Regions from separate parts of the Homo sapiens genome. Here region 2 is linked to region 1. A link means that fine-mapping ties the variant in region 1 to the plasma level of a protein whose gene starts in the linked region. Region 1 holds a variant in brackets. A gene starts in the other region. All regions are shown on their forward strands.

Region 1 (8,334 bases):
TTGACAGAGCCCATTTCTTCACATATTAATTGCTTAAGTCCTTCATGTTGTGAGAACAGATTTCTGCAGAAGGTTTTTGGAGCACAAGTTATCTTTTCTGATAGCCCTAGATGGGGAAATAATGATAAATTATAAAAGACTGAGAACTTCCAACTTAAGCCATGGATACAAAGCAGCTTGTATTAGATTAATTCTCCCACCAAAAGCAACTATAAAAGCTATGTAAAAGTGTATCAGGGCCAGGCATGGTGGCTCACACCTGTAATAACAACACTTTGGGAGGCAGAGGCAGGAGGATCACTTGTGCCCAGGTGTTCAAGACCAGTCTAGGCAACACTGTAAGACCTCTTCTCTACAAAAAGGTTACAAAGTTAGCCAAGCATGGTAGTGCATGCTGGTAGTCCCAGCTACTTGGGAGGCTGAGGTGGGAGGATCACTTGAGCCCAGGAAGTTGAGGCTGCAGTGAGCTGAGATCATGCCACTGCACTCCAGCCTGGGCAACAGCATGAGATTCTGTCTCAAAAAAATTCTACATATATATATATTTTTTTAAATTTATATATATGTATATATATATATCATAAAACTATAATTTAAAGGACTGGAGAGCAACCAATACAAGCAGGACTTAAAGGGCTACAATCTTTAATACAGAAGAATCACAGGAAGTAGCTTCACATTCACCTCTGCTTTTTCCCTAAGGAGATTTTCCATATCACAGCATGGGTAAATAGAGCCCATGCAGAAATCAGCAGTTTTACTGGGCTAAAGAAAACAGAGGTCAGACTTCAGGGCTGCCAGAGGAGCTGGGATTTCAGAAACAAAATCCCAGAGAAGATGAAACTGAAGAGAAGAAGCCAAAATCTACCCACAAATTTCCCTCAACTCACTGGCTAATACAGGTGAGATGCTAGAAACACAGAAGAAAATATCAACTAGGGCTGGGTGTGGTGGCTTATGCCTGTAATCCCAGCAGTTTAGGAGGCCGAGGCAGGTGGATTGCTTGAGCCCAGGAGTTTGAGACCAGCCTGGGCAATATGGTGAAACCCTGTCACAAAAAGAAAGAAAAGAAAGCAAGGAAGGAAGGAAGGAAGGAAGGAAGGAAGGAAGGAAGGAAGGAAGGAAGGAAGGAAGGAAGGAAAGAAGGAAGGAAGGAGAAAATATCAACTGATCAACTGGGAGATTAAAGAGCTGAACATCACTTTCATCAGCCTCACGGTGCTCAGGAAACACAAATTGTAATTCAACTCCCAGCCAAGTAGAAGGGTCTTGGTAAATACCCCAGACTTTAAGACCCCAGAAGAGCCATGACCTAGTAATTAGTGCAAAATTAAAAGCTACTATACCTAGAAAAGCATAAAACAAAACTTCAAAAGAGTAAAAGTTATCACTGGTGTTCTGTCTGCCAAAAAAAAAAAAAATGTGTAACCCTATCTGAAGAAATGTAACATCTACTAAAGTCTCTACAATTTGTAATCCATAATACTATACAAAATTAAGAGACAGGATAAAAATCAGAACAAATTACTAGAAAATAAGAGAAAAACTGGATTATAGAAAAAGACTGGCAAGTGCTTCAGACATTGGAGTCATCAAAGAGGGACTTTAAAATAACTGTTACATCTTTTTTAAAACCCCCCAAAAATAAAATAGGTGAAAAGATGAAGATGTCCTGATCCTCTTACAGGCTCAGAAAATTGAAATCAATGGATAAAAATCATCAGGGGTTTGGTGGTCTTAAGCCCCAGTTTGTTCAAGGGTCAGTTGTATGCAGTAATATCCCAGAGGTGGCGATCAGCAGGTGAAACTGAGTTTTCAGTAACTGGATCTAGGAAAAGTGGTTATCCACATGGGATAAAATGAAATAGCCCCCTACATCACCGTTTATGGATGTGGATTACATATTTAAATGTTAAATGTTAAGTGCAAAACTTTAAAATTTTTAAAAGAAAATAAACAGAAATATCTTTATAACCCCGGGGTAGGGAAGGATCTCTTACACAAGGCACAAAGAGCACTAAACCACAAAATTTTTAAATGGCAAGTTTGACTATATCCAATTTAAAACTGCTAGGGAGAATATGCCTTGGGAAAAGAGAAAATGCAAGTCATGAACTTGGAGAAGACGTCTGAAATCTGTACTATCTGTGACTAAACGAGGATTTTATGTTAGAATCTGTGAATTGCTCCTAGAAATCAGTAAGAAAAAGATAAAGCCTATTACAAAAATGAGCAAAAGACAGAATCGCCACTTCATAGAAGATAAAATATCTTCTATGGGAGATATTTTCTTCCATGTATATACCCAAATAAATACCGATTTGACTGAGGAAGAAAAGAAGTTCAAGAGAAAAGAAGTTCAAGTAGAAAGATGAAGAGAGAAGTCTGGCATTGGAAAAGATGTGGCATTTCCAATATATTGCTGGTGGAAGTAAAGTGAGCTATCTACTTTGGAAATAATTTGACATTATCTTATTACTTAAATATTCACACACTGCCTGAACGAACAATTCTACCCCTACTTAGGCACCTAAAGAAATAGAATTTGACAAATTCAATGACTAAAAACACCAAAGAATTTCCATAAACAAAAGAATGTGCTTCCATAACAAATATCAAGACAGAGCTGGTTTGAAGAGAAGGAGGTTTGAACACAGTTACACCAACAACTCCACGGAAGCCAGAATTAAATTACCTGGAAGGTGATATCTCAGTGGCTGAATTTTGAAGTTAATATATTCACGAAGAGGATAACTCTGGGAGACAGGTGATGATGTACTTGCTGGAGAGGGCAGTTCCTCACATACTATGGAATAATGTTAGAAAACAAAAATCACGCTCTTAATTTGGCATGGGAGAGACTCAAGCTAACTAATGCACAGTATACCAAACGTCTACTTAGAACTGATCCTGCATTCCCAATACAGAACATTAGATATTGTGGTTACATATTGTGGTTAGATTCCTAGGTCAGATACAAATTGTAAAATTAACTCTTGATGCTGCTGAAACACTCTATACTTGGAAGGAAAATTAACAGTAAAAATGCATTGATAGCAATTTAATACATTGCCATATAACTGAGTTTATTTTAAAACAAGTTAAAATTAGAAGAATGTGATGGCTAGTGAAGGAAAACTGGGTTTTATGCAGATTCTGAGGAACAAGTTTGCATTTTCAGAGATTTTGTAAGTTGCTAGTTCTGGTCTAATCTCACTGGAGGCTTTCCTTTTCCAAAACCAGATAAAATATCAGCATTATTCTTCTCTTATTGGTACAATTTAGGTTACTCTTTGGCTCATAAATGTGAGAGGAAGAGGGGAAGTCTTTACAGGAAATAAATGGAAAGTGGGTAAAGAAAGATGAAAGAGCAAGCAAGTAAAAGAGTAAGTGTTCCCAAAAGAAAGCAATGGTTAGTTACAGAAAATGAGCCCTGAAAGAAAAACGAAAAGAATTGAACAGGCTTTCCTTGAAAGTGAGTAAAGAAATGGTAGAGAAGAAACATCTAGAATCTTTGCATCAGATAAGGCTACTAAGAGTAGATATTTAGTTATTGTATGGAATATCTATCTTCTAAGTGTGCAGAAGAAAACAAGAGGCAGGGAAGTATTGGTTGTATCCACCAGAGATGTTGAAATTTGAAGACTTTTAATCTTGTCCCTAATCCCAAAGATACAATAAAACCTTCCTGCCACCCAAGCCAAAGGTATCCTTATTGCCAATCCTCCTTCCTCAACCTGGTTCTGAATCCACCATGAACTGGATCCATTCCTTCTCGGTCAACTGCTTAACTCTGTTATCTTTCACGTGCCAGGAATCAGGCTTTTTAGCAAACACTGCACAGCAGAAGCGTTCCACTCTGAGTGCATACACATATCCACAAAGCCTTCCTTTATCATATACTCCAAGGAATTTGCATAAGTAATTTATCGTCCCCTTCTCCACACAGAAGTGATGCACAGGCAGTTTCCCAATGGAATTTTTTGTTACTTCTTCTAACTTAGTAAGATAACTCTTCTCTGCTTTAAAGCCAATTACTTCTTTATCTTCATTTAGACCAACGAATAAATATCCTCCATCAGTATTTGCAAATGCAGAAACATATTGAGGGAGAATCTCTGTAATTCGTTGTAACAACTTTTCAGTCGAGAAGTTTTTTATTTCAACGTGTGTGGATTCAGTAAAGGTCAATTTTTCTTTATAACCAAGTTCTGTTCTGTTAAAAAAATCAGCAGCCAAGGCTTCCATGTTACTTTCTTCTTGTACATCAACACAGGCCCTTTTTGCAGGGAATTCTGGTCTTAAATATGCTCTCCCTCCAGTTTTTTCCATGTCTTTGAGGAACTCCAGTGCAGCAGAAGCATTCATGACTTTTGCAGACGTTACATCTCTCTTGTACAAACTGGAGCTCAACGTGGCAATCTGCGGACCAGAGGTTTCCAAGCTCCATGATTTCACAAAAAT[G/A]TGAAAGTAGTTACCATTCTGCATGAAGTCCAGGAAATTAGGAACAAATGGCAGCATGTTACTAAAAGAATTTTCCAAATCTAGCCCTATTCCATCTTTTTTATAACTATAGCCTTTATTCTCAACTTCAGCCTTGATCACTCCCCCTCCAGAATTCAGCAGAGCACACACAGCTCGTGAGACATTTTCATTCTGCTGTTTTCTCAGTTGACAATCCTTCATTTTTTTTCTATTGTTCTCTCCAAGAGTGACTCTTCCCACATTTAGAACCAGCTCAGCATAGTTTGTGTCTAAATCAATACTGATGTTCATTTTCCCAGCAGCTAAGCCATTTCCACGCAGAAATTCTTTTCTGTAAAATAGAGCCGTTAGAATAGGAGTTAAGCCTGAGAGACAGCAAATTCTGCATTATGAGGCAAACGTAGAAAAATCCTTTACTGTATATTTTCCACTAGACTGGTAAGTATATGGGTCTGAGATAACTAATTTCTAACAAATTTTGAGCTAAGGCTGTGATAATTTATACTCCTACTGAATTTTCAAATTTGTTACAACTGTTTTATACGATCTTATTCTAATAATTTTAATCTTGTCTTTATGTGTTCGTTGTGTCCTTTCTCATCACTAATATTGTACAATTTGTTTTCTCTCTTCTTTCTTTAAGTAAATCCCTGGAGGGATTCTATGTTTTTATTTTCTCAGTGGACAAGGTTTTAGTCATGCATATTATTTCTTCTTTACTTTTTATTTTAATAATTTTAGCTTTTACATTCATTAATTATCTCCTTTTATGGGAAATCCTTTTGGAAAACTGCCAGATAGGGTCTAAGAGGGTCCAGCAATAATAATCTTAATTATTTTTTATTCTTATAAGAATGAATTAGATTCACAAATTTTGGGCATTGATCGCAAGCAAAACAGACCAACTCCTTGTGCCCTTTCCCTATCAAACATCCACGTTTACAAGGAGGTAATCGTGGGTGGCAAGCCACCCAGGTGCCAAGGCAAGAGACTGAGGGCACAAGCTCTTCCAGTATAATAAAGAAAATATATAGAATAAGAATAGTTATACTAAAAATAGATTATAGATATGATTATATATGATTATCATTAATCATTAGTTTGTGGTATTATTATTCCAATATTATAATAATCTTTGTTCTACAATTATAACCTAGAAAAAAACCAGGCCATACAGAGATAGGAGCTGAAGGGACATGATGAAAAGTGACCAGAAAACAAGTGTGAGCCCTTTGTTACGCCCGGACAGGGCTTCTAGAGGGCTGCCTGGCCTAGCGGTAACACCAGCGCCAGGGAAGGCACCCGTCACCTAGCAGACCTTGGTCTAACAGTAGCATCAGTGCCTGGGGAAGGCACCTGTTACTTAGCAGACCGGGAAGGGGAGTCTCCCTTTCCCCGGGGGAGTTAGAGAAGACTCTGCTCCACCACCTCTTGTGGAAGGCCTGACATCAGTCAGGCCTGCCCGCAGCCATCTGGAGGCCTAACCGTCTCCCTGTGATGCTGTGCTTCAGTGGTCATGCTCCTGGTCCACTTTCATGTTCCACCCTGTACACCTGGGTCTGCCTTCTAGATAGCAGTAGCAGAAATAGTGAAAGTACTAAAAGTCTTTGAAATGCGTAGAAGAAATAATGGCATAAGCCGTGCTCTCTGTCTCCATCTTGGCTGCCAAACAGGGAAGGGCCCCCTGTCCAGTGGACACATGACCCAAGTGACCTTACCTATCACTGGAGATGGCTCACACTCCTTACCCTGCCCCGTTGTCTTGTATCCAATCAATAACAGCGCAGCCTGGCATTCGGGGCCACTACCAGGCTCCGCACCTTGGTGGTAGTGGCCCCCCAGCCCAGCTGTTTTTCTTATATCTCTTTGTCCTGTGTCTTTATTTCTACAATCTCTCGTCTCCGCACACGAGGAGAAAAACCCACAGACCCTGTAGGGCTGGACCCCACAGATAATATTGGTTTTTTTGTTTGTTTGTTTTGTTGTTTGTTTTTTGTTTTTGTTTTTGTTTTTGAGATGGAGTTTCGCTCTTGTTGCCCAGGCTGGAGTGCAATGGCACAATCTCAGGTCACTGCAACCTCCACCTCCTGAGTTCAAGGGATTCTCCTGCCTCAGCCTCCCAAGTAGCTGGCATTAAGGCACCTGCCACCATGCCTGCCTAATTTTTTTGTATTTTTAGTAGAGACAGCGTTTCACCATGTTGGCCAGGCTGGTCTCGATGATGATCCTGACCTCAGATGATCCACCTGCCTTGGCCTCCCAAAGTTTTGGGATTACAGGCATGAGCCACAATGCCCAGTCAAGGTAATATTCTTATATACAAAACACCTGTGCTCTACCTTGAATGTTTGCATCCTCTCAAAATTCATATGTTGAAATTCTAACACCCAACATGATGGGCGTTTGGGAGGTGATTAGGTTAAAGGGTAGATCCCTCATGAATGAGATTAGTGCTCTTCTAAAAGGGACTTCAGAAAGCTAGGGATGGCAGCCTGCCATCACAAAGGCTGCAGCAGGGAGGGGCAGCTAGGGCTGCACACTTTCTGGAGCCCGTGGGAGCCCTGCCTCTTCCAAGTTGGGACGTGAGCTCCCCAGGTGCTGCTGCAGCCACCCAAACCACCACTGTAGACCCAGGCCTCCCGCTCTCTGCAGCATGCTAGAATCCTGCCCCACAACCCTGCCCCATGCAGCTGCAGCCACCCAAATCGAGATTGCAGATTCAGGCATCTCTGCACTCTTGGGGCCTGAGAAGATCCCCCTGCCCTCGCAGGCTCAGAAGTGCCTGCTCCCACTGCCTGGCTTCTCCTTCTCCCTGCTGTCGGTGCCCACTCTGATCTGGGAGCAAAGGCTGGCCAAACTCCGGAGACATAAATGGCAGTGGGAGGCAGACAGATTCCTGGGTCAAAGGCGGCGGGTCCCCAGTAGGGCCACACCTTCAGGCCTGGGAGGGCCTGAAGGCTGGGGACCGGGCTGCCAGTGCTGTAGACTGTGGGGACTTGTGGTGCCTCTTCTGGGGCTGCATGTGGACCAATGGCACACACTTCCTCCCCTCTGAGGTCCATAAAAGCCCTGGGCTCAGCCAGAGCAGGGGCAGAGGAGGAAGAGATGAAGAGAGGACCAACTTCAGAGAGGAACTACCCTCTCTGCTGATAGCAGGAGAGGACAGGACAACCAGCCGCAGAGTGGAACTACCCTCTCTGCTGAGCGCTTCAGAGACCTGAAGAGACATTGGCTGCAGAGAGAAGCAACGGTCCCCAGGGCCTCCTCTCTGCTGAGAGCAGCAAACGTAGGAAGGACCAGTAGCAGATAGAAGCTACCCTCCCCAGGGCCTCCCCTCTGCTGAGAGCTGAACATTCCATGGGATGACCTGCCTACAGAGAGGAGTTACTCACTGCAGGTCTCCTCTGAGCTGTCCTAACATTTAATAAAGCTCATCTTCGTCTTGTTCACCCTTCACTTGTCTGCATACCTCATTCTTCCTGGACACAGGACAAGAACTCTGGCAAAGGTGCCGCCAGCCACAGAGGTTTCTGGCCAGAAAATCAACACCCTGAAGATCCTGTAACACAAGCTCACCCCTTCTGCCATATGAAAAACACAGAAGAAGTTGACAGTCTGCAATGGGAAGAAGGTCCTCACCAGAATCCAATGATGCTGGTATCTTGATCTTGGACTTCCCAGGCTCCAGAACTGAGTAATAAATTTCTGTTATTTATAAGTCACCCAATTTATGGTATTTTGTTGTGGCAGGCCAAACAGACTAAGACAGTGTGCTTTAGTCTATGTATACATAATCCATTAGCTCTTTTCCTTTAAAATCTATTGGGATCACTGTTTTGCTATAGACGA
Region 2 (8,334 bases), not on the chromosome of region 1:
CATTTTTCCAGCCTGCGTGAGCCTTCCTGATTCTAGTTTCATTCTGTACAGGCAGGAGCCTGTATAATGACAGGGATTATGCTTCTGAGTGGTCCAATCAAATGGGTGTTTTTCCTACAATTTGAATCTTTATAATGACATTCATCCTTGCTACTTTTTAAACAAATGAAAATAAGCCTGCCCTAGTTGTCTTCTTCCTGCCCTGCTACTCTTCCCCCTAGGTGAAGATGACGCTCCATTGAACAGTTTGACAACTTCATGTCTAGAAAGTAAATGATTAAAGTTGTTTTCAAATCCCATACATTGCTGTTCTGGGGTCGCACGTGACAATACTTATACAAACTGTGTGAATATCTGGCCTCTTTCTCATATCTTCCAACCTACGATACCCAGAGACCCACGTGGTTCCATAAGGGCCTTGCCACTGAGATGCCAGCCCACCTCATGCCCTGGCAGGGAGGGGCCTCAGAAAAACCAGAAATAAAAATAAGATACAAATACTTTAATCCCATGGATTTCCATATACATCTCGCTCTTGTGAACTAATCTGAAGGACAGAAAGTGAGTGAAACAATTTGGATGAAAATTCTCAACATTGTCAGTTTCACTTGGGTTCAGATGATAGAGTCTGTTATTGTGTTCTCTTACTATCCTCTATGCCTGGTACATAGTAAGTGCTCAATGAGTATTTGTTTGTTGATTGATAGAAAAGATTGTGCTTTCTAGTCCTTCTGCAGAAAGGAGTCCTTTTGAACTCAAAGGGCTGATGTAGCCCAGGTGGCTAGCAGGGAATCTTAGCCTAGAGGCCAGCAGTGACCAAGAGGAACAGGTTTAAAGGGGCTCAGCCTGCTGACTGCCCAGGTGGGCAGTGAACCTTGAGTGTATGGGAGGACACTGGGCTGGATGGGAGGGGTTGAGCTGGCCCTACCTAGGGGAGAGATGGAGCCAAGGGTTGGAGAGAGACCGTGCCAGCCTTGTCCTCCATGGGTCTTACCTGGTTGCCACACAGGCCTGGTTTTTCTGAGGCCCCTCTCTGCCAGGGCATGAGATGGGCTGGCGTCTCAGTGGCAAGGCCCTTATGGAACCACATGGGTCTCTGGGTATCTTAGGTGGGTAGATATGAGGGAGGGGCCAGATCAGATCAGTGTGGTCTGGAGAGGACAAGAGTTGGTGGATTCTGAGAACACTCAGCAGGGATGAAGAGAAGGGGCAGCCAAGAGGCTGGAGGACGAGCTGAGCCTTGAGCTCAGAGGAGGGTAGAGAAACTAAGCCCAGGGGAGAATGAGGAGCCCCAGTGGGGGATGAGGAGTTAGGTCCCATGGTATTATCCCTTTTTTCTCTGTCATGTAACACTGGAGAAGGAGGTAAGAAGTTTACCCAAAGCCCCAGGACCAAAGTGGTCCATGTTGTCTCCTGATGGTGCTCAGCTTCAGCCTTGGCAGAAGGGCAGGCCCTGGAGAAACTGGTGTGGATAGGAAGGAGCTGAGTATCAGCTTCATGTGGGGGTTTGGGGAGGTGGCAAGGGGTGAGGGGAGAGGAGAAAGCAGAAAACAGCAAAATTGTGTCATTGGCCTGCATAGCGCAGATGTGGTGCCTGAGAATGAGGGTCAATGAATAAACAAGAAACCAGCTTTTCCACTCAGCTAAGAGGTATTTATTCAGTTGCTGGCACCTCTCCCAGTGTAAATCTGGACTTGGCTCCAGAGAAGGTGTTTCATTACAGCGGGGGCTTAGTTTGCTTCCTGTAGTTAGTAGCGTTTCATGGTTTTCTTTATCCAGTGTACAAAGCTTGAGACTTTGGTGCAGGCTCGTGGAGGCATGCCATTGTTTCGTCCATAGGAGACAATGCCCTGGGCCACCTTGTTACACACAAGAGGGCCTCCAGAGTCCCCCTGTGAATAGAGAGTGGAAGGACTGAGCTGATGCTCCTCCGGGTCCTGCCCTCTCTTCCATCTCAAGCCCCCTTTTAGAAAAGGCCAACTTGCACAGCCTACATGTGGGAGACCAGAGGGCAGGGCAGGCCGCTGGTGGCCCCCAGCTGCCAAGCTCTGGCCCTGGACATTGTTACTGCTTCACCTCATCCCAGGGGCCAGCCTCCGTCATGTCCCCCAGATCCTGAGATCGGAGGTATGTGGGACCGTTGGCTGTTTAAGGACCCAGAAGTGGGCAAGGAGGGCTGATGTCCACCATGGAGGACCAGCCCATTAACCACGTTGGGTACCAGCCTCTGAAGACACACCTGGTTATAATTACTGCACCCCCAGTGGGCACAGTTTCCTAATATCTGTGACCTGGAGTGGGTGGAGTGTTGCAAATTCATCCTTCCAAAGAAGCACCATCCACCATAAGCCTCCTGGTAAGTTTGCAGAGGCCCTAATTTCTCCCCAGCTCAGTCTAGTCCCCTCTTCTCTTTCCAGAGAGAAATATCACAGTCTAGTGGGTGAAGGAGTCCCCCACTACTTGAGTCTCCAGGTCTCAGATATTCCCCAAACATCTTTCTCCCAAGAGCCAATCCAGGCAGGTGCATAGTCTTACCTTAAAGGAAGTCTTTTTAATCTCTGGGTCCCCCACGCACAACTCAATGGTACTGTCGTAATAATGGCGTAAGTCAGATTCGCACTTTCGATCTTCCTGCACTGTCATCTTCACCTCTTGTAGTGTGTGTGAGTGTTTTCCCAGGGGGGCCGTCTGCCCCCAGCCGGCCACACTGCATGTCTGCCCTGGCTTCACCTGGGCCTTGTTGCTAGGTAGCCTGAGGGGCTGCACAGCTCTGGTCCGCTTGGCCTTTCTCTCCAGCTGGTGGGGAAGAGGCAAGAAAGTCCAGGTCAGCCAACGAACTTCTGGGCCCCGACACAGTGATGGGGCTGCACAATCTTCCCTCTCCTCTGAGGCATAGGAACTAACCAAGAGGCCAGGATGGAAAGGAGGGAAGGGCCGGCATTCCAGGGGGAGTGGAACCAACTGGACCAAGAAGAGCAAGAGTGGCAGGAGTGTGCCTCACCTGCAGTAGCATGATGTCGTTGGAGAAGTTCTTAGGATTATAGGCTGGATGGGGGATGGGTCTTTTCACAGGGATAAACTGCTGGGTCGGCTCCTGTTCTTTGATATTGTGGGCCCCCAAGGTGACATTTATGGAGCTGCACAGAGAGCAGAGTGAGGATGGGGGTGGAGTCACAGGGTATACAGCCCAGAGACAGTGAAGAGCAGGTGACAGCTGGGGCAGGGCTGCAGCTGAGGGGAAATTAAGGGGACAGTCGGTCCCCAGGAATTGGAATTCTGGTAATTGCACCAGGTTTCTCAGGGTTCGGTTCCCCCTAGAAACACAGGTGGAATTGCTTCAGTTTGTATTCTATGCCAAAGTATGCCCCCAGTTCTAAATATGGCAGGCTTGGTCACTCTGCTGTTTCTTACTTCAGCAGCACCTCTGGAACCAACCTTCCCCTCTCTCCACAAACTTAACTGCCCTTTTCTCACCCTCTAAGGAGACCTCCTGGCATGTGTGTTCACAGGAGCCCAGGGAGCTCCTTGGGAAGAAGGCAGGGGTCTCTGTGGAGTGTTTCCAGGAGGGTGTGGGCTGTTTTCTGCTCCTCACCTTCCCCAACAGTGAGCAGCTGTCAGCACGAAGTCGTCTCGTATCAGGAAGCCACCGCACCTCTTCAGAGACTTCTGATCCCAGATCATAAGATAAGCCATGTAGGGGCGGGAGTGGGGCTTGGCCTCATGTCCCCCGATGATCTCCCCTGAAGGAAAAGTCTGTCTGCTTGTGGGCACCCATGGAATCTGCTGGGTGGGCACCTGCTTAGTGGCTCCAGAACTCCTGGGCATTTGGGAGCCTGGGATAGCCTGGAGTTGGGAGTGGCCTGGAGGAAGGGGCTTCAATTTCCTGCTCTGAAAAAGGGAAGAACAGCAGACTTTGGTCTGTAAATCTTTCTTCCATATGTAGTTGAAGGCGAGCATACCTGTCTTAGGGACAGTGAAATCCCAGAGGCTCCTGATCATTCCTCTCCTGACTTTGCTTTGTTTCAGGTGAGTTTCCAAGACCCTTATGAGTCCTGTGGTGTCTAGGATAGTGCTGCTTTCTAATGGCCAGGGTGTAAGTGGAGGGATCTAGATACTGTCATATCCTGTTTCCTAGAGCCTGACATGTAGTGGGTGCCCAGTAAATGTTCATGGCTGCATGATGGACTGGCTCCAGTTAGCCTCTGGATGAGGGCTGGTAGAGCAGTGCTGGTGGAATTCTAGAAAGCAGGGAAGCTGGGGCCTGCCGTAGTGCCTCATCCTTGGAAAGAGGGGAGCCACCAAAGGCCAGGGAAGAAAAGCAGAGTTGGAGAATGGGACTGAGCAAACACATTAACAGTGTTCTGAGGACAGTGATTGTACCAATTCTGCTGTCAGCTGAGCTCTGGGTTTCTCTCCTAAGTAGACAGTGAGAGAAGCACCTGTCTTATCCCAGAAACAGAAGCCAGGCCTACTCTAGAATAATTTAATATTTCTCTTTTCTAGTTTCCCATCCTCTGCCATTTACTTCTAGGAAAGTCCTACTCTCCAGGTGACAAAGGTGGGCTCTGGGGAAGGGATAGTACCCACTGGCTCTTCTTGAGAATGGCCTGCTGCTCTGCCATTCCTGCTGATAGCTTATCCAGCATCACACTTGGGGGGTCTTGGTAGAATGGGAGCTGGAGTTCAGAACATTCCTGGTAGATAGATGGATCAGGAATGTGGAGAAAGGGCAGGAGACCTGTGGGATGGGGTTGGGCCCCCGAGGGTGGAGACGGTCACTCACCTGCATCTGCCCTGGGCAGCAGGAGGAAGGCCAGCAGAAGCAGGATTGGTTGCATCTTCTCAGGAAGGCTGCCCTGGTTGGAGCTGCTGTTGTTTCCTCCTTGCTCTCTTTTAGCTCTTGGGAGAGGAAAGAGGTGGAGCAGGCTCAGTGACTTCATGTTCCCCTCTGGTTTTGTGGTGTCTCATCACAGATTTTCTGTAAATGCTGCCCACCCCCACTGCCTCTGCCTGATGACGTCCTCTGGGTGCTTGTGTGAGAATCATGCAGTGACCACATCATCACCCACAGCTGATGACTCAGAGTGGACCACCTATTCAGCCCAGAGCAGGAACCCAAGCCTATGAAGTGAATTGTAGGATGTGGTATCAGCCAGTAGAGGTACTGGAGCACCAGAAACCTGAGTTCCCAGTGATAGAACCGCCAATGCCTCATGGCCATGCTGCTAAATCCATCAGGATAGTTTCTTTAGCAGGTATGTGTTTGAGCCCTTCTGTTGTGCTAGAACCAAGCATGTTGGAGATGTGTCTCCTTCACTTAGAGAGCTGACCATCTGGTTGAAGAGACGGAAATGCCAGGAGCCAGAGTACAGTTTGGGGAGGGCTATGGTAGCACAATACACAAGGCAGTAACAAAGCATGGCCACCATCTACTAGACCCATCTAGCAACCCATTTATTATCATAGCTTCCTTTCTAGAGAATTTCTAACATCCCTTATTTAGTTACAAATGTTTAGTGTGAGAGTCCACCTCTTTTCTGAATGCTTTCAATAAAAGTCCTGTACTTGACATTTTATTGGGCTAGATTAATGAATTGCTAGGAGTCAAATCCACTTTGGGTAGGCTGGGGTCAGTCTACTCAAGCCACTAGAACCAAGAATGAGAAAGGGCTGGTTCTCTAAAGGACGTTTGTGGTGCTAAATTGCTGATACCATATGAAGTGAGGAAGCATGCCAGGCAGCCAAAGATCAGTAGTTGTGTTGTTTAGTATTCTGTCTCCTGTCCAGAGAGCCACACTTCTTACATAGCAGGCTCAGCACATAACAGGCTCACAGTAAACATTTGCTAAACAAACTACACTAATGCTATCATTATAATGGATGTGAAAGATTGTTGTTTCTGAACAGCCCGTGCCCAATTCTGTTAAAAGACAACTAAGTCTCTCTACATGGTTCGATTCTTGTGATTTGTTTCCACCTTTATATTTTCTGTGAGGAAATTTTTCTATGAGGAATGGTATATCTCAAAATATAGAATTCCAGTGTAAACGTCTTCCTTGTCAATAGCAAGCCAACTACATTTATCAAACTTCTATTTTTTGAACCTAGCTTGCCCCATAGTAGACGTTTTAAAAATAATTTTTTCTGATTATAGTCATAATATATGTTTGTTAAGAAAATTTGGAAAGTAGGAAGGGAAAATATCACTTTTTAACCTGTCTCCCACAGACTGACTGTTACCATAAGCAGTGTGTTTTAAATACTTGGGATCACATTGTACATACAATGCAATTTATTTTATCCTTGATTAACCCTACAAATTAAGCATTTTCCCCATGCTCGTAGAAATCTTAGTCAATACAACTATAGTCTTTCTTTCCTAGGCATTAAAAAATTTAATATGCAAGTAATTTTTAAATAATTTTAGCAAAGCGAAAATAATAAACATTACCTAATTTCTCATCATTCACTGATAACCATCTTTAATGTCTTGAAATATGCTCTAGCACATTTTTTCTCATGTAATATCTGCATTTTTTAAAATTAAAAGGGGATTATGCTAAACATAAGTTTATGACCCATTTAAAAAATTGAGGTAAAATTCACATAACATACAATTAACCATTTTAAAGTATTCAATTCAGTGACATTTAGCACATTCAAAATCTGCAACCACCACCTCTGGATATTTCATATAAACGGAATCACACAATACATGACCTGTTGTGGCTGGCTACATTCACTTGTAATAATGTTTCTGAGATTCATACAAGCTGTAGCACATGCCAGTATTCGTTCTTTTTAATGGAAAAATAATATTCCCATTGTATGTTTATACCACAAGTTATTTGTTCATCTGTCAATGGACATTTGGGTTGTTTTCATCTTTTGGCTATTGTAGCTAATGCAGCAATAATAAGCATTTGTGTACAAATTTCTGCATGAACAATATGTTTTCAGTTCTTTTGGATATATACCAAATATATATACTTTTGGAATTTCTGAGTTATACAATAATCCTATTTTTAATTTTTTAAGGAACCACCAAACTGTTTTCCACAGTGGTTGTACCCTTTTGCATTGCTTATCAGCAACATAGGAAAGTTCCTATTTCTCTGCATCCTTGCTGACACTTGTTATTTTAAAATTATTATCTTCATCCTAATGGGTGTAAAGTAGTATGTCATATGGTTTTGATTCACATTTCCTTTATGAGTAATGATGTTGAGCATCACTTCATGTGTTTGCTGGTTATTCGCATATCTTCTTTGGAGAAATGTTGATTCAAGTCCTTTGCCCATTCTTAAAATTGCGTTGTTTTTGTTTTCATTGTTGAGTTGGAAGAGTTTGTTATATATTCTGGATACTCAGCCCTTATCAGATATGTGGCTTGTAAATATTTTCTCCCATTCTGCAGATTGTCTTTTCATTTTCTTGATATTGTCATTCCATGTGCAAATTAAAAAAATTTTATGCATTCAAATGTATCAATTTTATCTTTTGTTGCTTGTGCTTTTGGTGTCAAATTTAAGAATCCATTGACAAATCAGAAACCATGAAGATTACGCCTGTTTTCTTCTAAGAGTTTTATGGTTTTGGCCCTTATATTTAGGATTGATTTATTTTAAATTAATTATTGTATGTGACATAAGGTAGGAGTCTACTAGAGTATTTTGCACATGGCTATCCAATTGTTCCAGCACCACTTGTTGAAGATATTATTCTTTCCCCACTGAATGTTCAAGACCCCCTTGACAATCCTTATCAAAAATCAAATGGCCATAAATGTTGTGTTTATTTCTGGACTCTGAATCTATTCCATTGATCCATATGTCTATCCTTATGCCTTTGCCATGCTGTTTTAATTACTGTAGCTTGTAAGTTTTGAAATTGAGAAGTGTAAGTACTCCAACTTTGTTTTTCTATTTCAATATTGGTTTTGCTTTTTTGGATCCTATGGAATTACATATGAATTTTAGGATTGGCTTTTCCATTTCAGCAAAGAAGACCATTTGAAATTTTGACAGAGATTGCATTGAATCTATAGATTGCTTTGGGAAGTATTGCCATTTAACAATATTAAGTATCCCTATCCGTGAACATGGGACATCTTTCCATTTAATCAGCAATTATTTGTGGTTTTTAGTGTACAATTCTTTCACTTCCTTGGTTAAATTTAGTCCCATGTATTTTATTCTTTGGGATGTTATTATAAAGGAAATTGTTTTCTTAGTTTCCTTTTTTTATTGTTCATTGTGGGTTTGTGTATAGAAACACAACTGATTTTGTACCCTGAAATTTGTTGAATTTGCTTATTAACTCTACTAGTTTTTG

Direction of the effects. Alleles are on the strand shown, and positions count from the first base shown. The strength of an association depends on the size of the effect and on how common the allele is.
For the plasma level of the protein whose gene starts at base 4,868 in region 2, G is the high allele of the variant in region 1 and A is the other (moderate association).

The links. A credible set is the group of variants that fine-mapping cannot tell apart. PIP is the chance, under the fine-mapping model, that this variant and not a neighbour inherited with it causes the effect. The UK Biobank Pharma Proteomics Project read protein levels with antibody pairs (Olink). The fine-mapping took linkage between variants from a reference panel, not from the people measured, so its PIPs are less certain.
Region 2: it holds the start of GZMB, and the variant in region 1 is the best candidate, but not a certain one, in a credible set for the plasma level of the GZMB protein (UK Biobank, PIP 0.63).

The regions. Positions count from the first base shown.
Region 1 is chr17:35,475,380-35,483,713 of GRCh38, forward strand. SLFN12L (schlafen family member 12 like) reads right to left here. Exons shown (of 5, transcript NM_001363830.2): 3 at 3,738-4,816; 4 at 2,696-2,806; 5 at 1-106. Among named protein-coding and RNA genes, the nearest start is that of SLFN13, 31 kb to the left of the region's middle. The variant G/A (reference allele first, on the strand shown) is at 4,465.
Region 2 is chr14:24,629,323-24,637,656 of GRCh38, forward strand. GZMB (granzyme B) reads right to left here and starts at 4,868. Exons shown (of 5, transcript NM_004131.6): 1 at 4,784-4,868; 2 at 3,593-3,740; 3 at 3,002-3,137; 4 at 2,536-2,796; 5 at 1,632-1,892. The coding sequence starts at 4,838. The coding sequence ends at 1,749. GZMH-AS1 (GZMH and GMZB antisense RNA 1) reads left to right here and starts at 3,780. Exons shown (of 3, transcript XR_007064087.1): 1 at 3,780-4,026; 2 at 4,974-8,334. RefSeq lists an enhancer at 4,247-5,446.